4 linked regions of the Homo sapiens genome follow. The protein of the gene in region 1 interacts with the protein of each later gene in a biochemical or structural test. Each region holds a gene or a part of one and is shown in the gene's direction. Other genes may lie near its edges.

Region 1 (7,835 bases):
CTGGGCGTGGTGGCAGGTGCCTGTACTCCCAGCTACTCGATAGGCTGAGGCAGGAGAATGGCGTGAACCTGGAGGCGGAGCTTGCAGTGAGCCAAGATGGCACCACTGCACTCCAGCCTGGGCGACAGAGCAAGACTCCGTCTCAAAAATAAAAAGACAGTATTGAGGGCTCGCTTGCTGCCATCTTACATATACAGTATACGTAGAATCCTGATTCTGCCACCTAAGTTGGAGACACCCACTGAATTTTGAGCCTCACTTTTCTTATTGTGAGAGTTTTGTAGCTGGGCATGGTGCTATACCTATAGTCCCAGCTACTCAGGAGACTGAGGCACAAGAATTGCTTGAACCTGGGAGGTGGAGGTTGCAGTGAGCAGAGATTTGCCACTGCACTCTGGTCTGAGTGACAGTGAGACTGTCTCAAAAAAAAAAAGTCTTGAATGACAGTGTGTCCATGAGACTTCCCAACCCATTGTGATTTCCTGCTTTCTTTTGCTAAAAACTGTTTTGACGTAGGAAACCCTAATACAAACACAAGATTTTCCTGTTTTCAGTAGATGATCATGCTACATCTCATAGACAGGAATAACCTTGTTGTTTAAAATAGTCACCATGTACCTAAATTAAAACATAACTTTTTTTTCCCTCCCCAACAGGTCGCTGAAAATTTTGTTCCCCCTCTGTTGGATGCAGTTCTCATTGATTATCAGAGAAATGTCCCAGCTGCTAGAGAACCAGAAGTGCTTAGTACTATGGCCATAATTGTCAACAAGTTAGGGGGACATATAACAGCTGAAATACCTCAAATATTTGATGCTGTTTTTGAATGCACATTGAATATGATAAATAAGGTGTGTAATATTTCAGTTATGTAAGGGGGAAATTCTGCAGGATAGCCTTAATTCTTGAAAGCTAAAGTATGTCTGTGGATATAACATAATTTTAATGCCATGGAGTTTAAATATTTAAACTTGTATATTAGGGAAATACTTTCTTGGTTTTCAAGAACTTACTTCCCAGGAGTTTGAAACCAACCTGGGCAATATAGTGAGACTTCATCTCTACAAAAAGTTCAAAAAGTAACCAGTCATGGTGGCATGTGCCGGTAGTCCCAACTACTCGAAAGGCTGAAGTGGGGGGGGGGGTCACTTGAGCCTGGGAGTTCAAGATGGCAGTGAGCTGAGATTGCGCCACTGCACTCCAAGAAGAAGAATTTACTACACAGAATCTTGATTGGTAAAAAGTAAATATGGAAAACAGATTTTAGCATTCACATGGTATGTAGCATTTATTGAAACCTCATAGGTCGGGGCATCCTTTTATGAACGTAGTTGTATTAATTGGTTTGAATAAATGAGAAAGTAAGTCTGCATGTTTCAATTATAAAAGTGTAGTATATGCTTATAAGAAACTGAAAAATGTGTTAACAAGAGAAAATAGGCTGGCCATGGTGGCTTACACCTGTAATCCCAGCACTTCAGAAGGCCAAGGCGGGCGGATGACCTGAGGTCGGGAGTTCAAGACCAGCCTGCCTAACGTGGCAAAACCCCATCTCTATTAAAAATACAAAAATGGCCAGGCGTGGTGGCTCAACACCTGTAATCCCAACACTTTGAGAGGCCGAGGCCGGTGGATCACCTGAGGTCAGGATTTCAAGACCAGCCTGACCAACATGGTGAAACCCCATCTCTACTCAAAGATTAGGCTGGGTGCCGTGGCTCACGCTTGTAATCCCAGCACTTTGGGAGGCCGAGGTGGGCAGATCACGAGGTCAGGAGATGGAGACCATGGTGAAACCCTGTCTCTACTAAAAATACAAAAAATTATCCGGGTGTGGTGGTGGGCGCCTGTAGTCCCAGCTACTCGGAGAGGCTGAGGCAGGAGAATGGCATGAACCCGGGAGGCGGAGCTTGCAGTGAGCCAAGATCGCGCCACGCACTCCAGCCTGGGTGACAGAGCAAGACTCTGTCTAAAGAAAAAAAATTAGCTGGGCATGGTGCCGCATGCCTGTAGTCCCAGCTACTCGGGAGGCTGAGGCAGGAGAATCTCTTGAACCCAGGAGGCGGAGGTTGCAGTCAGCTGAGATTGCGCCACTGCACTACAGCCTGGGTGACAGAGTGAGACTGTTTAAAAAGAAAAAAGAGATAAAAGATACGTTAAGTGGACACATTTACACGGTAACTTAAATTTTTTTGTAATCTGTAGTGGTGATTTCAAATTAAAAACAAAAGTGATAGTAGTAGTCTTATGGTAATAATGGTTTAGATGAGTTCTCTATTAAAAAGGTTGTCTTTCTCCTTCAATTTGATAACTCATGTGCGTAACGGGACAGTTTCATTTTCCGTGAGAGGTGGATTGTATTTTACTTGGGTTTACCTTTCAGGAGGCATTCTATCTTCTGTGGTTTATTGAAAACTCCAAATATTTATACTGGATTAAGCCTTGCTTTTCCCCTCCTGTCTAGCACAACAAAGACACTGAAACATTATTTTGTTTCCACCACTTATTTTTAGGACTTTGAAGAATATCCTGAACATAGAACGAACTTTTTCTTACTACTTCAGGCTGTCAATTCTCATTGTTTCCCAGCATTCCTTGCTATTCCACCTACACAGTTTAAACTTGTTTTGGATTCCATCATTTGGGCTTTCAAACATACTATGAGGAATGTCGCAGATACGGGTAAATAAAAGATGTTCTTTTATTCATTTGCCTGCCAATCCAAAAATACAAATATAGTTAATTGTACATAGGAAGGTATTACTTGTTCAGAGTTTTGAGTGTGTGAATTACATATATGAACATCTGAGAAAATCCTATAAGCAGTTTAATCAACTGTTCCACTCCACTCCAAGTGAGTCCATAGGCAGAATTGAGTTATGGGGAGAGCGGCCTAGTAATAATTGGTTTGCGTAATACAAAGTTCTACTGGGTAGTGATGTTGTAGAAGTTCATATAGAATCAGCTGAGCTTTCAGAAATGGTGAAAGGGTGGTAATAGTCATAACTTAGATTGTAATTTTTTTCCCATAGGCTTTTAAAAAATATTCATGAGGTTCTTTTTTTATTTCAATAGTTTTTGGGGAACAGGTGGTTTTTGGTTACATGAATAAGTTCTTCAGTGGTGATTTCTGAGATTTTGGTGCACCTGTCATGTGAGCAGTATGAACTCTACTTTATGTGTAGTCTTATCCCTCATGTGTATGAACTCCACCTTATGTGTAGTCTTATCCCTCACCCACTCCTGCCCTTCCCCACAAGTCCCCAAAGTCCATTATATGATCTTTATGCCTTTACATCTTCACAGTTTAGCTCTCACACAACTTATTATAATTTATAAGTAAGCCAGCATTGGATATAGTTGTATTCCATTATTAATTTAAGAAACCTTATGCAAGTAATTATTAGTCATCATCCCAAAAAAAAGGGAGAACAGGGTTAGATTCAGAATACTTTGATAAGAGCTAAATACTATCATGAGTGCTGTCAGTCTGTAGTAACTTTCCATTGGTATTCTATGTCTTTTAGGCTTACAGATACTTTTTACACTCTTACAAAATGTTGCACAAGAAGAAGCTGCAGCTCAGAGTTTTTATCAAACTTATTTTTGTGATATTCTCCAGCATATCTTTTCTGTTGTGACAGACACTTCACATACTGCTGGTAAGAATTTAATACGATTTAAATGTTAAGTGCCAGCTGGGCACAGGGCCTCACGCCTATAATCCCAGCACTTTGGGAGGTCGAGGCGGGGAGATTATGAGGTCAGGAGTTCGAGAACAGCCTGGCCACCATGGTGAAACTGTCTGTACTAAAAATACCATAAAAAAATAAAAGATACAATAAAAATACTGGGCATGGTGGCATGTGATTGCAATCCCACCTATTCGGGAGGCTGAGGCAGGAGAATGGCTTGGACCGAGGAGGCAGAGGTTGCAGTGAACTAAGATTGCGCCACGGCATTCCAGCTTGGGTGACAGAGCGAGACTCCGTCTAAAAAAAAAAAACAAAACAAAAAAAAACGCTAAGATCTATAGTTATATTACATTTTGGAGTTAATAATTTTCTTCTTATCAACAGGTTTAACAATGCATGCATCAATTCTTGCATATATGTTTAATTTGGTTGAAGAAGGAAAAATAAGTACATCATTAAATCCTGGAAATCCAGTTAACAACCAAATCTTTCTTCAGGAATATGTGGCTAATCTCCTTAAGTCGGCCTTCCCTCACCTACAAGAGTAAATATACCTTTTAATAAACGTAGAATGTTCCTGGTCGGGCACAGTGGCTCACACCTGTAATCCCAGCACTTTGGGAAGCCTAAGGTGGGAGGATTGCTTGGGCCCAAAAGTTGGAGACCAACCTAGACAACAAAACAAGATCCCGTCTCTACAAAAAAAAAAGTAGTCAGAAGTGGTATGCATCTGTAGGACCAGCTGTTGGAGAGGCTGAGGCGAGAGGGTTGTTTGCATCCTGGAGTTTAAGACTGCAGTGAGCTATGATCGCACCACTGTACACCAGCCTGGGTGATAGAGTGAGACCCTGCCTCTTTAAAAAAGCAAAAAAAAAAAAAAAAAAAAAAAGGCCACGCACGGTGGCTCATGACTGTAATCCCAACACTTTGGGAGGCTGAGGTGGGTGAATCACAAGGTCAGGAGTTCAAGACCAGCCTGGCCAAGATGGTGAAACCCCGTTTCTACTAAAAATACAAAAAATTAGTTGGGCATGGTGGTGGGTGCCTGAAATCCCAGCTACTTGGGAGGCTGAGGGGGAGAACTGCTTGAACCCAGGAGGCAGAGGTTGCAGTGAGCCGAGATTGTGCCACTGCACTCCAGTGTGGGTGACAGAGCAAGACTGTCTCAAAAAATAAAAAGGCTGGGCACGGTGGCAAACGCCTGTAATCCAAGCACTTTGGGAGGCCTAGGCGGGCAGATTACCTGAGGTCAGGAGTTTGAGATTTGCCTGACCAACATGGAGAAACCCTGTCTCTACTAAAAATACAAATTAGCCGGGCATGGTGGTGCATGCCTGTAATCCCAGCTACTTGGGAGGCTGAGGCAGGAGAATAGCTTCAGAGGTTGCGGTGAGCCGCGATTGTGCGATTGTACTCCAACCTGGTAAACGAGCAAAACTTTGTCTCAAAAATTAAAAAAAAATTCTTGATTAAAAAAAAAAAACATTATTGGGACGCTGAGGCAGGAGAATGTCTTGAACCCGGGAGGCAGAGATTACAGTGAGCAGAGATCATGCCACTGTACTCCAGCCTGGTGACAGAGCAATACTCTGTCTCGGGGGAAAAATAAATCATTATTTAATCATTGTGTTTTGATTTGCAGTGCTCAAGTAAAGCTCTTTGTGACAGGGCTTTTCAGCTTAAATCAAGATATTCCTGCTTTCAAGGAACATTTAAGAGATTTCCTAGTTCAAATAAAGGTATGTATTTATTTGCTCTTGCAGAAATATTAGGGGTAGATGTGACCACTTTTATGTTACATTGTAGAATTTTTATCACTTGATTTGTCATGCCAAATAAATGGGGTTTCAAGATAATACGTTTACACAATCTCTGTAATCAAAAAACCTGAGACTGGTAATACAGTGAAAAACTAAAGTCCAATAAGGATAGATATGTTTGAGATGTTATTCGGATAAACTTATTACTAATGTAATTCATTTTAGGTAGTCTTAAATGTATAATGGAATATTGGGTAAGAAAAACGTTGGTAGTTCTTTTTATAATTTTATACCAATTTTGTTAGTTGAGGGAACTTGTGAAAGTTACTAGATAGAATGTCTTTCTTCTGCTGTTATACAGTGCTTTATTCATACTTTTGGGAAGGGTTTTTCTTTGAACATCTTGCTTTAAAGAAATTTGGAAGTACTGTGAAACCCTAAGTAGTTGATGAATAGTTTATCCATGATTGTTGAATAAGAATTAGTCTCTTAGCTCTTAAATATTTTCTCCAAAATACAAAGGTTTTTTTTTTTTACTGTAAAAATATTAGCCAATTTTTAAAAAACTAATGAAAGTTACCTAGGCTGGGCGCAGTTGCTCATGCCTGTAATCCCAGCACTTTGGGAGGCCAAGGTGGGTGGGTCACCTGATGTCGGGAGTTTGAGACTAGCACGGCCAACATGGTGAAACCCCCGTCTCTACTAATAATACAAAAATTAGCCAGGCGTGGTGGCGCACAGCTGTATTCGCAGCTACTTGAGAGGCTGAGGCAAGAGAATTGCTTGAACCCACGAGGCAAAGGTTGCGGTGAGCCGAGATCACGTCATTGCACTCCAACCTGGGTGACAAGAGTGAAACTTCATCTCAAAAAAAAAAAAAAAAAGTTAACTGATAGCTACGAAGTCAATGATAATATAACTAAACTTAATTTAATGACAGTTATTAATTAGCCTTAGGAGAAACATCTTTCTTGGTATCTTGGCATATGAAGAATTTTTAGCTGGGCACAGTGGCTCACACCTGTAATCCCAGCACTTTGGGAGGCCGAGGCAGACAGATCAGTTGAGGTCAGGAGTTCAGGATCAGCCCGGCCAACATGGTGAAACCTCATCTCTACTAAAAATACAAAAATTAGCCAGGTCTGGTGGCAGGTGCCTGTAGTCCCAGCTACTCGGGAGGCAGAGGCAGGAGAATCACTTGAACCCAGGAGGCAGAGGTTTCAGTGAGCTGAGATCATAACACTGCACGCCAGCCTGGGCGACAGAGCAAGACTGCCTCTCAAAAGAAAAGAGAAAAAAGTGTCTGGGTGCAGTGGCTCATGCCTGTAATCCTAGCACTTTGGGAGGCCGAGACAGGTGGATTGTCTGAGCTTGGGAGTTTGAGATCAGCCTGGGCAACATGGTGAAACTACGTCTCTAGTAAAAATACAAAAAATGAGCCAGATGTGGTGGTGCCTGTAATCCCAGCTGCTGGGGAGGCTGAGGCAGGAGAATTGCTTGCATCTTGGAGGAAGAGGTTGAGATAATGTGCTGGGGCTACAGAACAAGACTCTATCACAAAGAGAACAAAATTTGTGTGAATACATAGTAGGTGTATATACTTAGGGGATGGGATGCATGAGATACTTCGGTAGAAGCATACAATGCATAATAATCACATTGAAGACTATTTACTGTAAGGTATCACACCATTTTTTTTGTTTTTTTTGGGGGGGCACAGTCTCGCTTTTATCACCCAGGCTGGAGAGCAGTGGCGTGATCTTGGCTCACTGCAACCTCCGCCATGCAGGTTCAAGTGATTCTCCTGCCTCAGCCTCCCAAGTAGCTGGGATTACAGGCGCCTGTGCCACCATGCATGGCTAATTTTAGTAATGACAGGGTTTCACCATGTTGGCCAGGGTGGTCTCCTGACATCAAGTATTCTTCCCGTCTCTGCCTCCCAAAGTTGGGATTACAGGCGTGAGCCACCATGCCGGGGCCCATGATTCTTTTGTAATCTTCCCCCCCACCAGTTAACAGGTTTGCAGTTCATTCAGCTATGTAGTATACTGTGTCACTATCCTATAATTTAAAACCCAGCCACTTTATGGATAATTTATATTCCTTCCTTCTCTAAAAAGGAAATTGCTCATCTATGATTTCTTTCTTTGCAAGTTGAAGTTTATTGCGTTGACATTTCAACTATCTGTTTTCACAGGAATTTGCAGGTGAAGACACTTCTGATTTGTTTTTGGAAGAGAGAGAAATAGCCCTACGGCAGGCTGATGAAGAGAAACATAAACGTCAAATGTCTGTCCCTGGCATCTTTAATCCACATGAGATTCCAGAAGAAATGTGTGATTAAAATCCAAATTCATGCTGTTTTTTTTCTCTGCAACTC
Region 2 (7,835 bases), on another chromosome or scaffold:
TCATCTGTGCCTATGTTTGCTTCACTGAGCTATGGGGAAAGAGTCACTGGCTGCTTTGTTTACAAAAAGAAAGGACAGGCTGAGCCTTAAGGAGTAGGAAGGAGTTCCTTGGCCTACCCTTCATCTCCACAAGTGAAAAGCCCCTTAGCGTAGCAGAAAATTCCAGGTTGAAGGTCTCTTTGGAGAAGGCAGAAGGAGTGACCTAGACTCCTGTTCACACATCTAATCACTTTCCGTCAAGATTTAAATTCCAGGTTGTCATCAATGGCCGAGAGTTTCCCCCAGCTGAAGCTGGAAGCAAGAAAGTGGCCAAGCAGGATGCAGCTATGAAAGCCATGACAATTCTGCTAGAGGAAGCCAAAGCCAAGGACAGTGGAAAATCAGAAGAATCATCCCACTATTCCACAGAGAAAGAATCAGAGAAGGTAGGTGTCCTCCTGCCATCTGGGAGGATCAGTTCCCTGTCAGTGTCTGGATTGTAACTGACTCCCTTGAGGCAATCCCAGCCTAAACAACTGACACCATCTCGGAGTCAGCTTCCCACTCTTCCCTCTACCCTATCTCGCCAGCCCACCTTTCCTCCTCTCATACCCAGCTCCTCTGTCTGCTCCTGTCCCAACATAATTGGATTTACAGAATTTCGGACTTGAAAGAGACCTGAAAGTTTATTGAGGCCAATCTCCTCTCTTGGAAGATGCGGAATGAGAGCTCCAGCAGCCCCTTTAACTTTGGGAAGCCAACCCCTTGACAGGTGGTGGGAATAAAGTCCCCCATCCCCATCCCTTCTTCTGTGATGGACTAACCAGTGTTTTCTTAGTTTTGTTTTCTTCTTGTCTCTCATTTTCTCTAGACTGCAGAGTCCCAGACCCCCACCCCTTCAGCCACATCCTTCTTTTCTGGGAAGAGCCCCGTCACCACACTGCTTGAGTGTATGCACAAATTGGGGAACTCCTGCGAATTCCGTCTCCTGTCCAAAGAAGGCCCTGCCCATGAACCCAAGTATGTCCTACGTGTCCTCTGTCCAGCTGAGGTTTTCTCAGAAAGAAAAAGAGACACATTTTCTTCCTTGCCTCCTCAGGGATGGCAGATTGACCAATTTCTCCTGTTTCAAAATGGGGAAAGGAGGGCTCTGAGGTCCTGGTTGCTGCTTGTGAGGCAGACAATTAGGGATTAGGAATTCAAAGGGAATTCCTGGCCCACCCTCTATCTCCTCTATAAGCACTAGGGAGGTTCACGGCTTGGAGGTCACTCACTGTTGGTGGGACAGAAAGGTACAGGACCTGAGAAGCTCTCTGCCTGTGGGTCTATAGACTCACATGTTCAAGAGAAGTGTTCCTGGAAGAGGTGAAACTAGGTTGATGCTTAAATGTTGAAAGGGGTCAGCCAGGCTAAGAGACACTGGCTGTTCAAGGCAGAAGTGACTGCATGAGATGTGACTGCACAGAGGTGATGTGTTCAAGGAAATTACCAGTAGTGGAGGATGGCAGCCTGGCAGAGGCTAGGTCAGGCTCCTCAGTCAAAACCATTTTAATCCTTCTACGTGCTTCATCTCCTGTCAGGTTCCAATACTGTGTTGCAGTGGGAGCCCAAACTTTCCCCAGTGTGAGTGCTCCCAGCAAGAAAGTGGCAAAGCAGATGGCCGCAGAGGAAGCCATGAAGGCCCTGCATGGGGAGGCGACCAACTCCATGGCTTCTGATAACCAGGTAGGGCGTTTTCCTACTCAAAAGATACAGGTCATTTTTAGCAACTGAGTGGTTTAAGATTGCCAGTGACTCCCTCAACATTTCCTGAAGTGTTTATGGCTCCTCTGTTTGATGGATTCTCCTTTAGCCTGAAGGTATGATCTCAGAGTCACTTGATAACTTGGAATCCATGATGCCCAACAAGGTCAGGAAGATTGGCGAGCTCGTGAGATACCTGAACACCAACCCTGTGGGTGGCCTTTTGGAGTACGCCCGCTCCCATGGCTTTGCTGCTGAATTCAAGTTGGTCGACCAGTCCGGACCTCCTCACGAGCCCAAGTGAGTGTCCTAGTCCTGGCTAATGCATGTGTCACCAGTTGGGGATGGTCTGTAACCCAGGGAAAACAAGGGTGTGCTTTAGCTGTGTAGGACAGAAGGGGCGAGTTGAGGGAAACAAGTCCAGCCCTGTCTCCACGGCCTCTTAGAAGACAATAGACCTGCCAAGAGTGAATGCGTTCACTCTTCCAGTAAGCATGATCCTTTTTAATTTTTTGACTAGTTTTAATTTTTAAAGAAATGTATAGGTACATTAAAAAATCATTCAGGCCAGACATGGTGGCTCACGCCTGTAATCCCAGCACTTTGGGAAGTTGAGGCAGGTAGATTACCTGAGGTCGGGAGTTCAAGACCAGCCGGACCATATGAGGAAACCCTGTCTCTACTAAAAATACAAAAATTAGCTGGGCGTGGCAGCGGGTGCCTGTAATCCCAGCTACTCGGGAGGCAGACAGGAGAATTGATTGAAGCTGGGAGGCGGAGGTTGCAGTGAGCTGAGATCGCACCACTGCACTCCAGCCTGAGCAACAGAGCAAGACTCCATCTTGAAAAAAATCATTCAAGCTGATTGAAAAAGTAGTCATTTCAATGAAAAGTCTCATTTCCGTCTCAGACTTCTAGTTTCCCTCCCTAGACCCATATATTACTATAGCCCTGCATTAGCAACTGGGATGCGGTCTGAGAAGCATGGTTTTGTTGTTGTGAGAACATCAGTGTGTATTTACATAAACCTAGATGGCATGGGCTCCTACACACGTACAGGCTGTATGGTATGGCCGGTTGCTCCTAGGCTACAAACCTGTACAGCATGTAACTGTAGTGAATACTGTGGGCAGCTGCAACACACTGGTAAGTATTGGTGTCTATCTAAACAGCAAAAAGATACAGTAAAAAGACAGCATAAAGGATTAAAAAAATACTACACCTGTATAGGGCGCCTGCCATGAATGGAGCTTGCAGGACTAGAAGTTGCTGTGGGTGAGTCAGCCAGTGAGTGGAGAATGAATATGAGGGCCTAGGACATGACTGTACACTAATGTAGGCTTTGTAAACACTGTTCACTTAGGCTAACTACATTTATTTAAAATATTTTTCTTTAATAAATTAACCTTAGCTTACTGTAACTTTTTTACTTTATTTTTACTTTATTTTTTACTTTATTAACTTTTTTATTTTTTGTTCCTTTTGTAATAATACTTAGCTTAAAACACAAACATGTTGTACTGCTATCCAAAAATATTTCCTTTGTTTATATCCTTAATTCTATAGTCTTTTTTCTGTTTGTAAATTTTTTTATTTTTTTAACTTTTTAAACTTTTTTGTTGAAAGCTAAGATGAAAATACATTAGCTGTTAGCCTAGGCCTACACAGGGTCAGGATCCTCAGTATCACTGTCTTCCACCTCCACGTCTTGTCCCACTGTAAGGTGTTCAGGGGCAATAACATGCATGGGGGCCGTCATCTCCTATGGTAACAGTGCTTTCTGGAATACCTGCCTGAGGCTTTTTTTAGTTACTTATTTTTCTAGAAGTAGAAGGAGTATACGCTGAAATAATGATAAAAATATAGTAAACACATAAGGAGCGTGTAGCCTAGATCCCTCGCATTCACAGTTCACAGTCGAGTTCACACTCCTACAAGAATCTCATGCTGCTGCTGATCCCACAGGAGGCGGAGCTCGGACCAGAATGCTTTCTTGCTCGCCACTCACCTCTTCCTGTGTGCCCAGGTTCCTAACAGGTTACAGAGCCCTGCACTTGGTGATAAGAATTTTTCAGCTCCATCATAATCTTACGGGGCCCCTGTCATATGTGTGATTTATCATTGAACAAAACACTGTTATGCAGTACATGACTATACCAGTTTCTTGAGTCCTTCTAGAAATTGCTGTGCATAACTAGCACATTTTCCCTTTTGTCTTTTTAAACAAGTATATCTTCTGTTTTATACGTTGACTCCTTTACTTACCAGACTTCTTGCATAGCTGCATAGTATTTCATTGAATAGAAGCTGACAAATTCAGTTTCTCAGAAGTAAACATTTAATAGGGACTTAGGAACAGAAATGATGTCTTGGGTGGCTGCAAGATGGTGGATCCCTGCACTTACCCTCCAGAAAGTATGCTTTCTATAGAGGCTTTTTTGGTTAAACATGCAGCTGGTCACACATTATACTTTCTTGTGAAACTTATGAGCACTAGCTGGTGGGGAGGCTTGGTAGACATCTTTGTGTGGAATTATTTATGCTACCCAACACTTTGGGATGCGGGAGTCAGATATTGGTGGTCATAGTGGTTTTGCATCAAGATGGCATCACTCTTGCCATGCAACCGGCATGTTTTCTTAATCTCTAAGGTCTATCACAAAGTGGAAAAGCAAGGTGTAAAGTGAGGGGAGAGGTGAAGATTGTCTGTATATGTCTAGAATATTTTCTTGAAGGATCGAAAAAACTGGCAACTGTGTTTGCTTCTGGGGAAGGAGGGACACTTTTATTGTACACTCTTAACTGTTTGAATTTTCACATGTTTGGCATCCAACTTGTCCATTTTAAAGTCATTAAGGAAAAAAGCTTATAAAAATGCTATCTTGTTACTTTAAATTTGTCTCTCCTTAATAGAAGTAATGTCAGCCGGGCGCAGTGGCTTACGCCTATAATCCCAGCACTTTGGGAGGCCGAGGTGGGTGGATCATTTGAGCTCAGTAATTTGAGACCAGCCTGGCCAACATGGTAAAACCCCATCTCTACTAAAAATACAAAAAATAGCTGAGCATGGTGGTATGCCCCTGTATGCCAGCTACTCCGGAGGCTGAGCAGGAGAATTACTTGAACCCAGGAGGCGGAAGTTGCAGTGACCTGAGATTGTGCCACTGCACTCCAGCCTGGGTGATGGAGTGAGACTCCGTCTCAAAAAAAAAAACAAAAAAATCAGAAGTAATGGCATTTCATTTATTCATATTTATGTGTTATTTGCATTTCCTTTTCTGTGAACCACCTGTTCTTGTCCTTTTCCAGTTTTCTTTCAGATTGTTACTCTCATGGATATGTAAGAACTTTTAACATAATTTTTAAAAGTAGCCCTTTGCCCAACATGACCCAATTTAGAACACACATCTGCCCACTGTTTAAGCCATCTGGAAAAGGAGAGGCCCAGTCTCCCTCCAGCTGCTCTTCTACTAATTCATATCCTTCATCTCAATAAGCACCTCCTTATCTTTAAGCACAGTCCTTCAGATGATAGGTTCAGTGCATTTCCTCTTTCTCTTCTGTGAAATCTTCTGTGAAATCCTTTCTAGGACTTCAAGTCAGCCATTCATTGAGAATGTAAGAACTTACTATGAACTAGATGGAAGATACAAAAAATTGCTGCCCCTGAGTGTGTAGCAGACATATAGCCATAGCAGTATTGAAATGTGCCATTGGAGGTGAATGCAGAGTGCTGTGGGGACACAGAGGACACTGCTGCCACTGTCTGCCAGGGAGCTGAGGAAGGTTGCATAGAGAGGGGAAATGCTAATTGAGTAACTACGTTTATTAACTATCTCGTACAATAATATACTTTAGTTGCTTCTTAATGTGAATTATGCTGGGTCTTTTTTTCCTTTCTGTCTACTGTGGCTGGTGACGTTAACTAATTTTATGACTTCTTTTCTGTTTTTTTTTTTTTTTTTTTTTGGAGATGGAGTCTCACTCTGTCACCCAGGCTGGAGTGCAGTGGCGCAGTCTCAGCTCACTGCAACCTCCGCCTCCTGGGTTCAAACAATTCTCTTGCCTCAGCTCCTCGAGTAGCTGGGATTACAGGCATCTGCCACCACATCTGACTATTTTTGTATTTTTAGTAGAGACAGAGTTTCACCATGTTGGCCAGGCTGGTCTTCAACTCCTGACCTCAGATGATCCACCCGCCTCAGCCTCCCAAAGTGCTGGGATTACAGGCATGAACCACCGCGACAGCCATGACCTTTAATATCTAAATGCTGGAGACCACTCAGAGCTCCCGATTCCTCCATCTAGTTGCTTACTTGTCACCTCTGTTTGGATTAACATCCCTAATATGACATGTCCAAAGCAGAACTCTTGGGTTTTGCCCCCTTCGCTTCATTTCCCCCAAGTCTTTCCCAGCTTAGTAAGTGATACCACTGTCTACCCAGTGGCTCAAGTCAGAAACCTGAGGATCATCTTTTCCTCTATCTCCTTTACCTCCTTCGTCAACTCATCCTTAAGTCCTATTGGTTATACTTAGAATTTCTATCCCAAATCCCTTCCTCTTCTTTCCACCTCCAGCGTCAGCACTCTAATCCAAGCCACTGTCTCATCTAGACTGTCACAATAGCCTCCTAACTGATCTTTATACTTTATTTACTCAACACTTATTTATGGAGTATCTTCTATTTTTTTTAGAACAGGAACCAAACATTAACCAATAGTCACCTAAAGAAATGTAAGATCTCATATTTGATAAGTATTCCAAAGGGCTGGAGTTGCAGCGAGAATCAATTATAGCACAGTTTGACTTAGGAAGGAGAGGGGGAAGGGCTTCCCCAAGAAGTACTGCCTGAGCTGAGACTTTAAGGATGATGAAGAGAGAAAGACTGAGGGTTCTAGGCGAAGGACACTGTTAAATCCTGTGGTGGGAGAAGCGCAGAGCTGGCAAAGAGGCTGAGAGGAGGCACTTATGGCAATAGCCCCATTTGGCTAGTGGCTACCATATTGGATAGCACAGCTCTAAAGGATTCTAGTTGCATAATTAACAAACTTTATCATATATGTAAATATATCAGTATAAAACTTTGCACGTAAGAGTTCATATTCTTTTCAAACACATGGGGCAGTCATGAAATTCTCCTGGATCCCTGAGGTAAAGATACTACACAATCTGTCCCTCCTGACCGCCTTCACCATCTTCTTTTCATGCCACTGTCCCTCTCATTCTGAACTTAAGCCCACTGGCCTGCACGGGCCTGCCAGCATGGACAAAGAAAAGAGTGAAGGCATTTAGTTGCTTCGGATCATCAAGGAACAGTGAGAAACTCCATGTGGTTGAACATAAACGTTGATTCCTTTTACTGCCTGAGCTGCTAAGTCTTGAAACTGAAGCCTCTGTTATATGCAGTTAGAGTATCCAAAGCTGGGTTCTCAGCCAGTAGATTAGGATCTGGTTGAAAGCTAGGATTCTTGATGCCTTGTCTGGTACATTTCCAAGCTGTTTTGCTCCACCATGCTCTTCCCTCTGTGTTTGGAAATTACCAGCCGGAGCGGTAGAAGCCACCTCCCTGCTCCACTTGGGCACTTTATTGTCAGCGCAGCTCATGCGCCCAAGATCCATTCCTTACCCCAGAGTTAGCTTAAGCCTGCCAGGAGTCAAAAAAACAACTCCCAGCAAAACCTGGGTCCCTGGCCTAAGGCCGACCTTGACCTAATGACCTCTCCAGGTCAAGTCCCCTTGAGCTAATAGGAAGTAAATGAGGGAATGGAGTTGGGCGCTTTAAAAATCAGACAGTGTATGAAGTAACAGTGACTTGTGGGGAGAAAGGTAGTCCCTTCTGATTTCTGCTTAAGAAGAGAGTCCAAGTTGGTGCTAGCATTTCGTTAAGCCTTCCTCATACTTCATAATCTTCCTTTATAGTAAGGACAGGCTCAGAGCCTTTGCAGGTAACAGTATCTAGTCAGAATTTTATAACATGATTTTATCATATTCTGTTTTACAGCCACCTTCAATATGTGGCAAGTGATACTGGTTTTCCATTTACAGTAGTGAAACAAAGTTTCCTATTTCAGTGTGTTTACATTTTTATCTCTTTTTTCATACCTAGTATTAC
Region 3 (7,351 bases), on another chromosome or scaffold:
CTGAGGCAGGAGGATCACTTGAACCCGGGAGGCGGAGGTTGCAGTGAGCTGAGATTATACTCCAGCCTGGGTGACGAGAGAAACTCCGTCTAAAAAAAAAAAAAAAAAAAAAAAGTCAGAACAGAGTGTTTGTGGTCTACTGTGGGAAGCCACATTAAAACATTCAGTGGAGATGGTAACTTAATGACTTCCTTTGGGTTGGCTCTTTTAGGGAGGGACATTGCTTGGGCCTCCAGACTCTGTGGTTGATGTGGGGAGTACAGAAGTCACAGAAGAAATCTTTCTGGAGTACCTCTCCTCCCTGGGGGAGTCCCTGTTCCGGTGAGTGGAGACAGGGGTGGTGGTTAGTTGTGTCTGTCTCCCCAGCTAGATAATAACCCCTGGAGGCAGCTGCCATGTCATATCATCCTTATCACTCAGCACAAGGCCTGGCCCAGTTTTTTGCTGAATTAACATGAAGAAAAGGCAGTTATGCTACAAAAAGCTCTAAGTTGTTCTGATACAGATATTCCTTCAAACATACTTTCTGCCGAAATTTTTAGAGGAAATAAGGGCTTTTCATTCCTTCTGATTAAAATCGGCAAGCGCTGTTCTCAACCTGTATTGGCCAAGTTTGCAGAAGGAAAAACAGGGTTTGCAGAAGGGTTGGGATGAAATACAAACTTGAGCAGATTTTCTCTGAAAGAGGCTTTAGTCAGTTTCAGTAAGGGGGTAAACTCTTAACACCAGAGTTCTGCTTTCGTGAATGTAAAGATTCTCCTGAAACTGTGTAGGAGCCATGTCTTTTCAGTTTCTCCTTCCCTTAAAAATCAGTTATTAATGGCCAGAATGGCAAATAAGCAGTGCTTTTCTGGTGTATGAGACGGGGGAAATCGCAATCCTCACATTGAGCTGTGCTCACCATTCCACTGCCTAGCTTGAGTTATTCCACATAGACGCTTGCTGGTTTCTCATATATGTTCTGCAAACCTTTCAATGTACAGAGGTGAGGCCTACAACCTCTTTGAACACAATTGTAACACCTTCAGCAACGAAGTGGCACAGTTCCTGACTGGGCGGAAGATTCCTTCTTACATCACAGACCTGCCCTCTGAAGTTCTCTCCACGTAAGTGTGGCCTCTGTCCCTGCCCCTGCCTTGGCCAACCTTGAAAATCCCCATTCACGGTCAGTGCCCTTCCTCTGGCCCCCATCTGCCCTCCCAACCAGGTGGGCCTGCCCTGATGGCAGATTCTAACACAGAAGGCTGCCATTCTCTCCACCCACTGATGCGCACCTGTATTACCTCCACCTTCAGAGCTAGACCAGCTCTGCCCTGGCCTAAGTGCAACCACAGAACTTAGACACCCACTTGACACTGGCTTCAGTACTTGCACAAAATTCTGGCGTCTGTCCTTCCCATTGTGCTCGAAGCATGCCACTCCCCAGAAGCACCCAGTTAAAATGCAATGTTAGACAAGCAGAGAGGGGGTCAGAAAAATAGTAGGGGGGCTTGTTTTGTAGCTGTTGATTTGCCTTACACTGCACCATGAACTCTTTGACTCCCTCAACGACTATGTTCTACTTGCCCTCATGTATTACAGCACAGTCTTCAACAGATGTTTTCTTCAAGAACACTCTGCAGCCCGTTCTGTCCTGATGTGCCCCAAGCCTTGGAAGAGCCTTGCAGGCCATCATCCAGGCAGTATACCCCGAAAGGACACAACACCCCCAAAGCCATCTCACCTCCTCCCTCTTGTCGTTGATTGCATTCAGGCAGCCTCTGCTCATTCCAGGACCATGTCTATTTGCTTATTCTGACTCAGTTTCTCCTGAACTATGGCCTTATTTAACAGAGATCCTGGCAGGTTTCGCAGGCCCAGCAAGGTGGGCTGTTTTTTATATCTGAGGAAGCACCTCCCAGGAAGAGCTTGCATAGGAAACAAGACTGCTGTGGCAGGCTGGTGAGGAGCCCCAGTCCGCCAGCCCTGGCCCTGCCTTCCTATCATTCGATGAGTTTGCAGTCCCACAGCTCTGCTGAGGGATCTAGGTTATGGGGCCCTGAGCAAACTGGAGTAGCCAGAATGTGCTTGCTGTTATTATTTTATGGGTGGAGTTCCTGGAATTGTCTGAATTAGGTTTGATATTTCTAGGTTTCATCTGTCTATACTTTGGAGTACTTCATTCCTTTAAACTTGGAGATGATTTTCAAAAATGGCAGTATCCACTGAAGAAAAAGCCAGTGACTTAAAAGTTTCTGGGCAACCTTATTTATGGTTGTCGTAATCATGGAAAATCTCCAAACTCCAGTATTTGTAGTTTTTTTTCCATCTGTTACTATGAGAGCAACCTAGGAGCCCTTTAGAAAGGCATTAATGGCTGGGCCCAGTGGCTTATGCCTGTAATCCCAGCACTTTGGGAGGCCGAGGCAGGCAAATCACTAGGTCAGGAGTTCGAGACCAGCCTGGCCAACATGGTGAAACCCCATCTCTACTGAAAATAAAAAATTAGCCAGGCGCAGTGGCACACGCCTGTAATCCCAGCTACTTGGGAGGCTGAGGCAGGAGAATTGCTTGAACCTGGGAGGCAGAGGTTGCAGTGAGCCGAGATCACGCCATTGCACTCCAGCTCTAGGCTAGAGGTAGACTCTGTCTCGGGGTGAAAGAAAGGCATTAATACTGGCAACCTAGCATTTGTCATTTTTCCAGAATATTCCCTGTACTCCCTGGCAGACCTCTGTTCCTGAAAAAAATCCAGTTGTTTGCTGTCCTCACCCCTTTGTCTTCTTTTTCATATCCTTCTTCTTTTGCCTCAGTTTCCCTGCTTAAATTTGATCTTTTCCTTGCTCACAAGAATTAAAGACACAAGCACATAGAGCACAGAAAGTTCTAGTTCTCTGTATGTAGCCAGCCTACTCAAACCACAGCTAACCAGGCTCTAGAGGTGAGGCCCTGAGGAGGGAACCCCAGGAATAAAAATACAGAGCAGGCTATTTCGGAGATGCCCTCCAAGAACACTGGTGTGTGAGGCAGGTGGGAAACTTAAGTGAGGTGACGAGGTGCTCTTTCCTTCTCTGCTGGTGCTGCTTCTGCTGCCACCAGCGCCCACTCCTCCTCCCTACCCGTGGGCAGCACAGGGTGTGTGACAGCAGGCCACATCCCAGAGCCCACCCCTCTCATGTCTCTGTTTCCTTGCAGGCCCTTTGGACAGGCACTTCGGCCCCTCCTGGACTCCATTCAGATCCAGCCTCCAGGAGGGAGCTCCGTGGGCAGACCCAACGGCCAGAGCTAACAGGACTGCCTGGGACCGCCCTGCCTCACCAGGGCTTTTCCTTTTTAAACAAAACAAACCCTACCAGATTTCTATTTTATAATTTTACATCAGAGCTAACAACCAGGGGACGGCTTTTTAAATTTCCCAGGGAAGGAGACCGTCAGGCCGCATGTAGACAATGCTGCTAAGAAACAGAACAAAATGCCACCCCTTCTAATAGTATTATACTAATTTATTAAGGCTGTCTTGTCTGTGCGTTCACTTCGGATGCTGTTTCCTAAGCGTCCTCCACACTGGAGAAAGGGAGGGGCTTTGTTTAAACAGAAAGCGAGTCACAGTTTGCGGGAGCCCCAACCTAGAACTCTTTCCAGAGAACACTCACGCTCTACCCAAGTTGCCAACACCTGTGGGACCCAGGTGAGTTTTAGAACATCCGTGACCCAGAAAGTTACTCTAGTGTTAAATGAACCAAAGGATTTGGTGTACATGGGACCGGTTTCAGGATGACTAACCTAACCTAAGTGAACTCTTTAGCCACAACCCTCACCTTCCCTCCCTTACCCCAAGCAAGGCCAGTGCTGGAGCAGCCATTGCCTCCGGATCAAGGGAGTAACAGCAAGTATCAGGCCGGAGAAAACAGGATAAAGCCATTCCTCCTTCCACCTAGATGGATTGCCAATCTTCTGCCATCAATTTTGGGAAACCTGCCTTTGTGCCCCCGAGGCTGCCTTTCCTCAGCATAGCTGACTTGTCATAGTGGATGAGGTCTGGGCTGGAGCAGTAGAAGCCAAGGCCTTTTTTCTGCAAGTAATGATGTAGGTTATTTGCAGTCTCTGTAACCACCATCCAGGCCAGTACGCAGTATTTAGCTGGGGACCAAGGGATGGGATTCCCTACTCTAAGAAAATACCTTTATTTTAATTATTATTATTTTTTGAGACGGAGTCTCGCTCTACCACCCAGGCTGGTGTGCAGTGGCATGATCTCGGCTCACAGAAACCTCTGCCTCCCGGGTTCAAGTGGTTCTCCTGCCTCAGCCTCCTGAGTAGCTGGGATTACAGGTGCGTGCCACCACGCCAGGCTAATTTTTGTATTTTCAGTAGAGACAGGGTTTTGCCATGTTGGCCAGGCTGGTCTGGAACTCCTGACCTCGGGTGATCCACCTCCCTTGGCCTCCCAAAGTGCTGGGATTACAGGCGTGAGCCACCGCTGCCTGGCCAGAAAATACCTTTGATATGGAAAGAATAATGATGTGAGGCCTGGCGCGGTGGCTCACGCCTGTAATCCCAGCACTTTGGGAGGCCGAGGCAGGCAGATCACTTGAGGTCAGGACTTCAAGACCAGCCTGGCCAACATGGTGAAACCCCGTCTCTACTAAAAATACAAAATTAGCCGGGCATGGTGGCGCATGCCTGTAGTCCCAGCTACTCGGGAGGCTGAGGCAGGAGAATCGCTTGAACCCGGGAGGCAGAGATTGCGATGAGCCGAGATCGTACCAGTGCACTCCAGCCTGGGCGACAGAGTGAGACTCCATCTCAAAAAAATAAAATAATGAAGTGGAATCAAGGTGGCAAGAAAATTTAGAATCGTTTCTGATAGGGACTTTCCCTTATCCTAAATGTGTTTTGAAGGCACACGTTATTTCCATTGTCATTCTGACTTTAGAAAGGCAGGTTGGGGCATGAGTGGGCATTTTCCTAATGACTTGCTGCTAGGAGGTTATAGGCAGGGAACAGTCTGGGAGTCTCTAATCCAGAGAGACTTTCAGATTCCCTCTCTTCACATGAACCTCCATTAGTTAGATTTTGGGAAAGTGAGCATGAAGAAGGGACTCAGAGCTGCCAGGTACCCGAGTCTCAGGTCTGACATCCTTGGGCCCCTTCTGCCACAACTTCTTGCCACTTCACGGACTTGAATTATGTTGCTTCTTCCTGGAAGTCTGGCCTGCAGCACAGGCCTTTCCTCTCCAAAAAGCTGCTGCTCATTTCTGGCCCCATCTGCTGCTATCTTTGCCATCAGCCATCACAGTTTGGCATCATCAGAGTCTCAGCTAGAGGAGCTGTCATTCTGCCTTAGTGTTTGCCTGCGACCTGACCAGGGGCATGACCAGCTGGGATGTCAAGTGACATTTGGGAACTTGTAGAGGCCAAATGATTGAAAGTTTAATTCTTCTCAAGACCCACTGATTTGCCAGTGTGCATGGAAATAATAGATTAGAGCAGAAACTAGCAGGGACTGTTGTATAATCGTGATCTACTAGCAGAATTGGGCCCAAAGAGAAAGAATTTCTGAGGCTGGGTTTCTTCTGGGAGGGTAGCAGGTTGGTCTTGGCCAGTGCTCTGTTTCCCACCAGTGTTGTTCCCTTTTCCAGCTTGCCTGGCCCGGCTCTGTCTTCCAGGGTCCTGCTCCAGACCCCTCTGCCTGGGGTCTCCCCTCCATCCAGGGGGTTCTGGGCATCACAGCTCCTTTTTTTCCTTTCTCCTCTTCCAGATCCAGTTTCAGCTGGTTTGCTTCTTCCAGCAGGCACCCTTAGGCCCAGGAGCAGCTCCCCTGAGAGAATTTGAGTCACTCATTTCCTTGAACAGCACCCCCCTTTATACTAGCAGCCATTTGTGCCATTGCCTGTGCCCTAGGGTTTGTGGGGAGAGAGCGAGGGATCACTGAGCAGTTTTCCCAGAGCTCCATGGGAAGGCAAGCTCTCCCTCCCAATGGGAGCCCCACTGTCACTAACTGTAAACTCAGGCTCAGGCTTCAACTGCCTACCCCCATCCTCATATTTCTGTCTGTCCCAGCACCTCAGGAGCATTCTCATTGTGGCCGGCTAACTCCGCCTGGATGTGAACAGGCAAGCACAGTGGGAAATGAGTCACGTACTTGTATTGCACAGTGGACACCTCTAGAGGTCCATTGGTTTAAAGGGATAGGGAAGGAGGAGGGATGAGACCATCACCCCCTCCCAGAAGTAAATCTAGTATCTGAGTTTTCTTTATGCCCTTGAGTCAAACTAATAACTGTCTAGTACGGAGGTGTTTGCTGGTTTTCTTCGGTGTTTTTTCTAATGCAATAAACTCATTTCTGCCTGCTGCATTTGTGTGGTGCCTGAATCAGGTCTGCACATGCATCCAACATGAAGCGACCCCAGGCTTTTGGGTCCCTTGGAGCTTAAGTCTGCGGGGTCTGGATGTGTCTCCTTTGCATGGTTGTGAGCCTGTAGATAAGAAGTGATAACAGGGAAGGATGTCTGAATTTCACCACTGGTTTATAAAGATGGGGGAAGGGCCCAGAGAGAATATCACTTGCCCAAGGTCACCTTGCAGCTGGTGCAGCTCAATGCTTTGTCTGATAACTTCAAATTCTGTAGTCTTCCTCTAGCTATCAGGAGTGTCTGACCTCACCGAAAAGTGTTCACTTCTACTTTCAACTTGGCTCTAGGTTGGGTCTGTGGCTCCTCATGCCCAGACAGGCTGTAGCTGAGAGGGCACGCAAGGAGCCTAGTGGGGGCCTGGCACACCACTGAATGTGAGCCCTTGACCACAGGGCCTGGCTGCTCTTGAAAGAGGCAGAGTGTGTCTGGGACGAGGCTGCCCCACTGGTTCCCAGGTTGGAGAGCCAGGCAAGGTCACGCTGCAGTGAGAGTGATGGATACCAGGTGGCGCTGTGGCCCTGCACACCAGGCCCAGCCTACTGCCCAACGCCCAATGCCAGGCTGGTCTTGGGTACCCTCGGCCACCTCAGTAAGCTCGTCCAGCTCCCCTCAGCCCGTGTGGACCCCTACGAGCCCATGGGGTAAGAGCCAAGCTCCTTGTCCTCATTTATCAAGGCCCTTCTCAATCTTGTCCTTGAACACCCTGGTCCTACCCCACACCCTGCTGCAAGTGCCAGTCCCAGTCCCTGTCACTTCTGGTGGTTTCACACCTCCAAGCCTCGGTTCACCCTTTGCTCCACCTGGATCCCCTTTCCCCACCCCTTGTTCAGTGCTAAAGGCCCAGTTCCAGCATGTCCTCTGACCTGTCCCCACCCAGAGCTGACTCCTTGCTCCCATGGGTACCTCCAACGCACTCCCACCAGCCCAGTACCTCCCAGGGCAGGGCCTGGCATGGG
Region 4 (8,701 bases), on another chromosome or scaffold:
ACCTGCTAGATACATTGGCATAACTAAAAGGGAGCCAAGTGCTACTATTCAAGACAATGGGGAAAACAACTTGAAGTCATTTCAGCGAACTTCATGGCAGCCCCTCCCATCAGAGGCCTTAGGAGGGAAGAATGGTTTCATGGGCCGAGCCCTTGGCAAACTACTCTCCCCACATCCCAGCCACTCCAGTTCCAGCTATGGCTCAACAGGGTCCAGGTACAGCTCGGGCTGCCACTTTGAAGGATGCAAGCCATAAGCTTACATGGCTTACATGAGATGTTAAGCCTGTGGATGTACAGAGTGCCAGAGCTGAGGTTTGGAAGCTTCTGTGAGGGTTTCAGAGGATGCATGAAAAAGCCTGGATGTATAGGCAGAAGCCTGCTGCAGGGGCAGAACCCTCACAGACAACTTCTACTAGGGCAATGTGGAGGGGAAAATATGGGGCTGGAGCCTCCACACAAAGTCTCTAATGAGCACTGGCTAGTAGAACTGTGAGAAGAGGGCCACCATCCTTCAGACCTGAGAATGGTAGATCTATTAGCAGCTTGTACTCTGTACCTGGAAAATCCACAGGCACTCAATCCCAGCCCATGAGAGCAGTTGGGGGAGTTGTACTCTGCAAAGGTATAGGGGTAGGGCTGCCCAAGGCCTTGGGAGCCCTCTCCTTGCACCAGTGTGCCCTGGATGTGGAACATAGAGTCAAAGGGGATTACATTGGAGCTTTAAGATTTAATGACGGCCTGCTTGGGTTTTGCCTTGCATGGAGCCTATAGCCCCTTTCTTTTAGCCAATTTCTCCCTTTTGGAATGGGAATGTTTACCCAATGCCTATACATACCTATTGTATCTTGGAAGTAACTAACTTGTTTATTTTACAGGCTCATAGGTGGAAGGGATTTGTCTTGTCTCAGATGAAACTTTGGACTTTTGAGTTAAATCTGGCAAAGGTCAAGATTTTAGGGGATTGCTGAGAAAGTATGATTCTATTTTGCAATGTGAGGACATGAGATTTGGGAGGGGCCAGGAGAAGAATTATATAGTTTGGATAGTTTTCCCTGCCCAAATCTCATGTTGAAATGTAATCCCCAATCTTGGAGATGGGGCCTGGTGGGAGGTATTTGGGTCATGGGGGCGCATCTCTCATGAATGGCTTGGGCCATCCCCTGGGTGATGAGTGAGTTCTCCAGTTGAGTTCACATGAGATCTGATCATTTAAAAGTGTGTGGCACCTCCCCCACCACTTGCTCCTGCATTTACCATGTGAAGTACAAGCTCTCATTTTGCCTTCTGCCATGAGTTAAAGCTTCCTGAGCCCTTCCTGTATAGCCTGCAGAAATGTGAGCCAATTAAACCCTCTTTTCTTATAAATTATCCAGTCTTGGGTATTTCTTCATAGCAATGCAAGAATGTCCTAATACATCTGGTATCCCTTATTTCTGAGCATTGGTTTACCTCGATGATTCTGTGCTTTCTTTAATGTTATACTACCTTCCATTGCAGGACTTCTGTTTAGACTAACACCTATGCCTGCACTCCAACTCAAGATTAGGCAAATTCCCATCTCCACTAACTTAGCATAACGTACTTCCCATTCATAGCATTTATGGCAATTATCAGTGATTGAATTCATAATTGGGAATATTTGATTCACATCCGTCTTTCTTATAAAATTCAAATACAACGAAGACAGGTAAAATGTCACTTCAGTTCACCACTGTATCCTGCATCTAATGTACCAACACACATTAACTACTTAATACATGCTGAAATAAATTAAAACCTATATATATATTTTTTTTTTAAATCGTGGACAAAATAAAAAAGCAAGCACATACTTTATTTAGAAAATAGAATAAAATAAAAGCAAGGAAGCAGACACAACTGCATATAAAAGGGAAAACAAAAGTGAAATAACCAAATAGGACTAAACATCTAAGTTGACCATTTTCATTGCTAAACTTTTGTGAAATTATCATTCAGTGCTTACACTAGACTATATGTTTTACATGCATTGTTTAACTTAATCTTCACAGCACTCTGTTATCAATGTTTTACAGATAAGAAAACTCAGGCTTATTGACGTTAATTGACTTATAAAACCATTAATAAGTTCTGGGCCACTTTGGCACCTGAACTTTCAAGCATTAATCAGAAATAAAAAGGTTAAGCTTCTCTGCAAAATAAAAAGATTCTCGGATTTGAGTTAAAAAAAGAAAAACAAGATGCAATCTATCTGCTGCTTACAGCAGATATGCCCAAAACAAGATGACACAGGTTAAATATAAATGGATAGGGTGAGGTTTATTAGGCAAAAACAAAGAGAAACATAGCAAAAGTTGAAGCATTAATATCAAAGTAGGTTTCAAGACAAAAATACAAAATGATACAAAGAAGGTCATTTTATATTAAAAACATAAACTATGTAAATACGAAAGACATGCACCTTTATAGGATGAATAATATATGTTCAAAATACAGAAACCACAAACTGCTCAACACACAATCATAATGGATGAAATTTTCATCTTTCGAATAAAGTAGAACAAATAAAAATAGTCATTGTTAAGTTGGTTTTTTGTCCTCTTCATAATGTTAACTATATCAAAAATGAGTATGTATTTACATTTTCAAAACATATCTAAGAGTATAAAGTAAAATATTAACTTTACTCCTTTAAACTCATCCTTGTCTTTATACATATCCGTTATTATAAGAGATTAATGGTCTTTTCAAATATTATTTTATACACGTACATGGATACATACATATCTATAATCGTTTTTAAGATAATGGAACTTAATTATTATTTATTTATATTATTAATTAATTTTTTTTTGAGATAGAGTTTCGCTCTTGTTACCCAGGCTGGAATGCAATGGCATGATCTCAGCTCATTGCAACCTCTGCCTCCCCGGTTCAAGTGATTCTCCTGCCTCAGCCTCCCGAGTAGCTGGGGTTACGGGCATGCGCCACCATACGCAGCTAATTTTTTTGTATTTTTAGTAGAGACAGGGTTTCGTCATGTTGGTCAAGCTGGTCTCAAACTTCTGACCTCAGGTGATTCACCTACTTTGGCCTCCTAAAGTACTGGGATTACAGCCGTAAGCCACAGCACCCAGCCCAAGATAATGGAGCTTAATTAAACTTAACTGAATTGTTTTAAGAAATATTTTTAAATGCAGAAAAAGAGAGTAGTATGATAAACATTCATTTTGCACCAAGAATAATTGACAATTGTTTTAAGTTAACATATTTATTTAAGTCTTTTGTTAATAACAAGATAGTCAAAGTTAAAGCATATTTTGATATGTATGGGGGTAAAGAAGGAAGGGAAGATATATTCAAAGTGTATATAAAATATACATGTAAATTCTAGAAAGTTTTTCAAACAGTGGGTGTTAGTCAGCACTGAAGTGTTGGAATGGAAATGTAAGTGGAGGTGGGATTGAAACAGGCTGTTGCTGTAACACTGTTTTTCTTAATCATAAGAATGATTTAATTTTATAGTTTCTCAAAATACCCAAGGGAGGAACATAAACTCCTATATATAACACGACTCTTTTTAAACATATATATCTATAAATGCTTGGGGTGTCAGGAAACACTGAAAATAAATTTACCAAAGAGTTATTTTAGCCATTCAGTACTTATTGCTGGGTGGTGGAATTATTGTTGACTTTGTTCTTAGTATACTTCTGCGTTTTCCAAATTATCTACCATAAGCAATTATATTCTGATTGTAAAATGCTACAGATGAAAAACTAGAAATAAACATTAAAATTATTTAAAAGGTTTAGTTCACTAACAATCCTGGTAATGTTGCATTGATACTAGGATACTCAAGACAACAGATTTGGTCACAACTAAAACTTTTTAGAGCTCTCCACTTACTCATTTCCAATTGTGTATGATCAATTTCTACGGTCTATTACATTCACAGCCGGTGCAATTGTAAATTGGTACCACCTTTCGGAAAGCAATTGGCTCTATATATCTTTAAAATCTTAAAGTTATTTAAAAAGCCTTATGCCCTTTACCCCAGAACTGTCGCTTTCCAAAAATTTTCCTAAAGGGGGAAATTCGAAATAAGAAAAACAATACACAGGTTGAGCACTGTAACTTATATATAATAAAGTTGGGGAAATTAGAGAAAGGTTAAATTACAGTGCATTTATTCAACAGAATACTCCGTCATTTGTAACAATGACTATGAAACAAAATAGAAAAATACTCACGTTAGGTTAAATGAAGAAAACATACCTATCTATGGTGGATCACAATATGAAAATTTAATACTTCTAGGTAGAAGAAGAGAAAGAGAATATGAAAAACTAAAAAGTCTTTAGGGGTAGGAGGACGTGAGCAGATCTCTAAATAACCTTGAGATCAATGGAAACAGTGTATAGATTTTTAGGTTCACTTATAAGCTGCTGATCTTATTTTAAGATCCTTCAGTATATGTTATCAAAAAGTGTTTGCTTTTCTTGCAAACGCCCATGTTTGGGAAATATGCAAGTTGAAGCCAATGCATTACTGTACTTTTTATAATGCACCTGAAGTTTTACTAGCTGTTCCAAGAGTGGTGTACTGAGTATTGATAAATCGTTTAAGTGGAGGCTCACATGAAATATTAACTATTACCCCAGGGCTTTAGAGCAACTGTGATCAATTCTGGCACAGCATCAGATCCATAATTTTCTTTGCTACTCTGATTTCTACGTTTTTTGTATTTTCAAAGTAATGTGACCGCAACTGTTAAGTTATTAAAATTGCTCCTGAGATGAGGGCACTCGAGACACAAACACACGGAGAGGTTCGTCCGCTATTCCTCTCATTTACTAAGCTCACACGTCTACCCTGAGGATTTGGAAACACTGTATGATTCTGCACTTACTGTGCACTTATCCCTTAGTGCTAAGGGGTAAACAGATACCCACCGGGCTGTCTAAGGCGCAGCCTCAAGGCAAGGAAGAAGGGTGCTGGGTCGCAGGGGATGAGAGGGCGGGGCGGCCACTTTGCTGCAGGAGATACCCAAAGCCAGTTAGCACTGAGGAAGTCAGAAGAGAATTGTCAGTCTCTCGGACACCTTCATTTTCTGCCCCGGAAATTTCTCCTCCGCTGTTGTCTGGGCTCCACTTCCGACCCCCAGTTGCTACCAGCTGTAGTCCGACCTATCGTGGCCCGGGCTAGTGCCAGCCTCCCGCCGCTACCTCCGCCTCGTCCCTTCTCCTCTGCGCCTGCGCGACCGGAAAATTCGCGAAGGTTCCTGAAACGCAACGGATCGTTTCCGGAAGCCGGTAGCCGCCTCAGTCGTCAGACCGGTGCTAGCGACACGGGAGTGGCAAACGCATCCTCTTGCCGTTCCCGGTGTTTGGGCCTTGCCTGTGACGGTGGGAAAAGAAAATGGCCTTGCTGTGCTACAACCGGGGCTGCGGTCAGCGCTTCGATCCTGAGACCAATTCCGACGGTAAGAGGAACGCGCCGCCAGCCCTCCCTCCCCTCCACCTCATCAGCAGGGGAGGCCCTTTGGGCCGGAGGGTGTCCGCGGATCTCCTGCAGCCGTCCTCGCGCGGCCCCAGGTCCATGCCCCTCCTGGGCCTCCCTTGGCTGCCCGCGCAGCCCGCCGGCCGCCCCTCTGTTGCGCCGCGTTCCCTTGGCGAGCGCCCGGCCCCGGCGCCTGACTGTCCTCTGCCACTGCGGAGAGAGACGCTCCCATGGATCCACGTGTTTCCCCCGTCGTCCCCGCACTCCTTTTAAGTCGCCTGGAATTTAGAACGAACACGTTTCTCCTCTGGCCCTCCAGTCTCTGGGGAAGCAAAAATTAACGAGGTACTGGTGAGCTTGCTTTGTAGTTCCCGAAGTAGTGATGGCTGTGATTGCCTGCGCGAGAGGGAGAGGTGGCCGGGATGAGCAGCGGGTTGTCCTAGCATGTAAGCTCTGCCTTGTAGAAGTTTGTGTTCAGTCGATCCGCTGTTACAAACCTCTTACAAGTGTTCTTGGTAAGGGACATTACTCTGTATCTTCACGCTGTTTTGATAGGTTCATCCTGGTGGTACGTTAGTTATCTTTTTATTACTAGCGGCATTTGTTGCTTGTTCTTCTTGTGGCCTCCACGTTTTACTACCATGCCTACTCCCGTATAAAATGAGTGAATGTCATCTACAGCACCTAGATGTCGAGTTAAGGATCCAAAGCGAAAATGACTATTAGGTGAAGGACGGGAAATGATCAGTGAATTGAAATTTTGATTGACAAAGAAGTGAGATGATTCCTTGCGTATCGTGAGAAGTGACAACACGTTTTCAGATTGAACTAGCATTTAGTTTATATTTTCTGCATGCCAGCCATTATTGCTTTATCTTATTTAATCTTCATAACCACCCTGGGACGCATGTAATGTTAATTAGACCCATTTGATAGAGAAGCTCAGTTCAATGAGGTTGTATTAATAACATCCTTCATTATTGTGGAGGAGATGAAAACTGATGCCTTTTGAACTCTTCACCTCTGAGATGTTTGAAATACTTATTTTTGGCACACAGGTAAATTGATAGCGTTATTTAAAATAAGACCATTGATACAGAGTTTTAAGGAAAAGGAAAATCCAACCTATGCAATACTCAAGTTACCGCCACTGACATTTTTATGATGCAAATATGATGCTACTCATGAGGAAAATTGTGAGATTTCAGTCGATGACAAAATCGAGAAACGATTTTAAAGCCCTTTGGTGTTGGCAGCCTATGTAAAACATTAATTGCACTTATGTCTGCAGATATTCTACTTTAATATAGAATACAGGGGAAAGACTGACGCTTTGCTTATGAGACAATAAAGTTCAGGGGCGATAGTCATTTGTTGGAAGTCTGTATCCATGTGTGAATTGGTGCAGTGCCTAGGAAACAGAAAGCGACCAGGAAAACCGTCTCAAAACTTGGGTGGTCAGCAGTACTAGTTACAGCAGAGAAATTCCAATAAGTATATTTACTTTAGCGAAATGACGGTTTTTTTAGAGACTTAGAATACATTTTTCAAGTAAACTGATTGAGTGAATGGAAGGAGAAGAAAATGGAGATACGGAGTAGGAGACAAGAACTAAATAGAAAGGTTGGTTAGGAGGTTTTTTAGGAAGAGGTTTGACCTTGTACAGTTGACAGAAATAAGTTAAAAGAGGTAAATACACAAGCAAGTTCCATTTTGCGTAAGCCAGATGTTGGATCTGTCATCTTTAAATATTTCTTAATCTACACTAAATGCTTTTTTTCTCGGTGCTGTGGCATAATTACCGTGCTCGTTGACTTATAGTCTCATGATTTTTTTTTCCCCCTAGAGACAGAAATTAGACTCCCTTTTAAGCTGATAGAACGTTTTAACTTGTAACTGAAGTTAAAGGGTGTTTAAGGGAGACACAGTTGGTAACTTACATATGTTAAACACTTATTCTAGAATAAACACAGCTTCACAAACGGTATTTTTTTTAATCGACGTATACGAGGAAAACTGAAGGAACTACTAGCGAGTAGCTCAGTGAGAAATTTAGCCAGGGTCAGACCCAATGTTAGAAGCCCTGGACACTTAACCACTGCTACTGTCTTGTAGCTTCTCACCCATAAAATATTAATTTTGCCAAAACTCTTAAAACTGATAAAGAAAGGATGGATATTAAAGAAAGAATGAAGAATGTCCATTTGCTTGTTACTTCTTGTTTTTGAAAGCAGTGGCTTTCTAATTGTGTTCATGTTAGTTGTATGGTTCAGATCTGACTCATTCCTGCTGCCATGCTGCCAAAATTGACTTATTGTGACATTTTATGCCTCTGACTCTGTTATACATTGCGTTTATGTTTCTGACTACTTTAAATTTGGTGTTTGAAAATACTGGATCTATTCTCTACTTCCATTCCCCTCTCAACTTCATGTCCTTCTGCATACCCATTTCTACTTCCAACCTCCTTTTTCAGCCCTTAATTCCACAACTACCCTTAATTAATAACATCTTTCTGATCCCACGGATTTACTTACTGTATCAGGAAGATACCTAACACTTTCTACATTAGCTAGTATCTATGCAGCACATGGTTACTAAGGAAGCAATACTGGCTAGTAACGGGGTAGGGAGATTTCTGTGAGCACCAGTAGTAAATTTTGAGGCAACACCAGGAATCAGGTGATAGAGCAAGGGTGTTCAATCTTTTGGCTTCCCTGTGCGACATTGGAAGAAGAGGAATTATCTGGGCCACATTGGAAGAAGAATAATTGGGTCACATATGAAATACACTAACACTAATGATAGCTGATGAGCTTAAAAGAAAACAAAAACAAAATTCATAATGTTTTAAGACAGTTTACGAAATTTGTGTTGGGCTACATTCAGAGTTGTCTGGGGCGGCATGTTGGACAAGGTTGTTGTAGAGCATTGAAAGCTAAATAGACTTGAAAGGTTGAAAGATAGTCTTTTAAGCAGATTGCAGAGGGATGAAGCTGACTGTTACCTGATTTTTAAAAATATAGTACTCCATCTTGCAAATTGCTGAGAGCAGCTTGGTCGTGGAGACCCTAACCCGGTGGTGCTAGAGGAATTAAAGACACACACACAGAAATATATAGTAAGGAGTGGGAAATCAGGGGTCTCACAGCCTTAGAGCTGAGAGCCTCCAATGGAGATTTACTAAAAGTATTCCTTACGGGAAATAAAGGGATGGG

The links.
Region 2: the proteins of XPO1 (region 1) and ADAR form a complex in vitro, tested with the Homo sapiens proteins (2 studies listed by BioGRID, with this or other methods).
Region 3: the proteins of XPO1 (region 1) and DESI1 form a complex in vitro, tested with the Homo sapiens proteins (one study listed by BioGRID).
Region 4: the proteins of XPO1 (region 1) and CHORDC1 interact in a test that uses a peptide from one of them, tested with the Homo sapiens proteins (one study listed by BioGRID).

The regions. Positions count from the first base shown.
Region 1 is NC_000002.12:61,478,784-61,486,618, reverse strand, and holds part of XPO1 (exportin-1), read left to right. Parts: intron 1-656; coding exon 657-851; intron 852-2,513; coding exon 2,514-2,682; exon of another isoform or gene 2,683-3,527; coding exon 3,528-3,662; exon of another isoform or gene 3,663-3,992; intron 3,993-4,079; coding exon 4,080-4,239; intron 4,240-5,337; coding exon 5,338-5,434; intron 5,435-6,035; exon of another isoform or gene 6,036-6,294; intron 6,295-7,652; coding exon 7,653-7,799; 3' UTR 7,800-7,835. UniProt on the Homo sapiens protein: Mediates the nuclear export of cellular proteins (cargos) bearing a leucine-rich nuclear export signal (NES) and of RNAs.
Region 2 is NC_000001.11:154,590,992-154,598,826, reverse strand, and holds part of ADAR (double-stranded RNA-specific adenosine deaminase), read left to right. Parts: intron 1-241; coding exon 242-425; intron 426-850; coding exon 851-999; intron 1,000-1,559; coding exon 1,560-1,704; intron 1,705-1,831; coding exon 1,832-2,022; intron 2,023-7,835. UniProt on the Homo sapiens protein: Catalyzes the hydrolytic deamination of adenosine to inosine in double-stranded RNA (dsRNA) referred to as A-to-I RNA editing.
Region 3 is NC_000022.11:41,597,014-41,604,364, reverse strand, and holds the end of DESI1 (desumoylating isopeptidase 1), read left to right. Parts: intron 1-211; coding exon 212-321; intron 322-983; coding exon 984-1,106; intron 1,107-3,174; coding exon 3,175-3,268; 3' UTR 3,269-6,337; downstream 6,338-7,351. UniProt on the Homo sapiens protein: Protease which deconjugates SUMO1, SUMO2 and SUMO3 from some substrate proteins. Has isopeptidase but not SUMO-processing activity. Desumoylates ZBTB46. Collaborates with UBQLN4 in the export of ubiquitinated proteins from the nucleus to the cytoplasm.
Region 4 is NC_000011.10:90,219,656-90,228,356, reverse strand, and holds the start of CHORDC1 (cysteine and histidine-rich domain-containing protein 1), read left to right. Parts: upstream 1-5,307; 5' UTR 5,308-5,402; coding exon 5,403-5,466; intron 5,467-5,657; exon of another isoform or gene 5,658-5,828; intron 5,829-8,701. UniProt on the Homo sapiens protein: Regulates centrosome duplication, probably by inhibiting the kinase activity of ROCK2. Proposed to act as co-chaperone for HSP90. May play a role in the regulation of NOD1 via a HSP90 chaperone complex. In vitro, has intrinsic chaperone activity.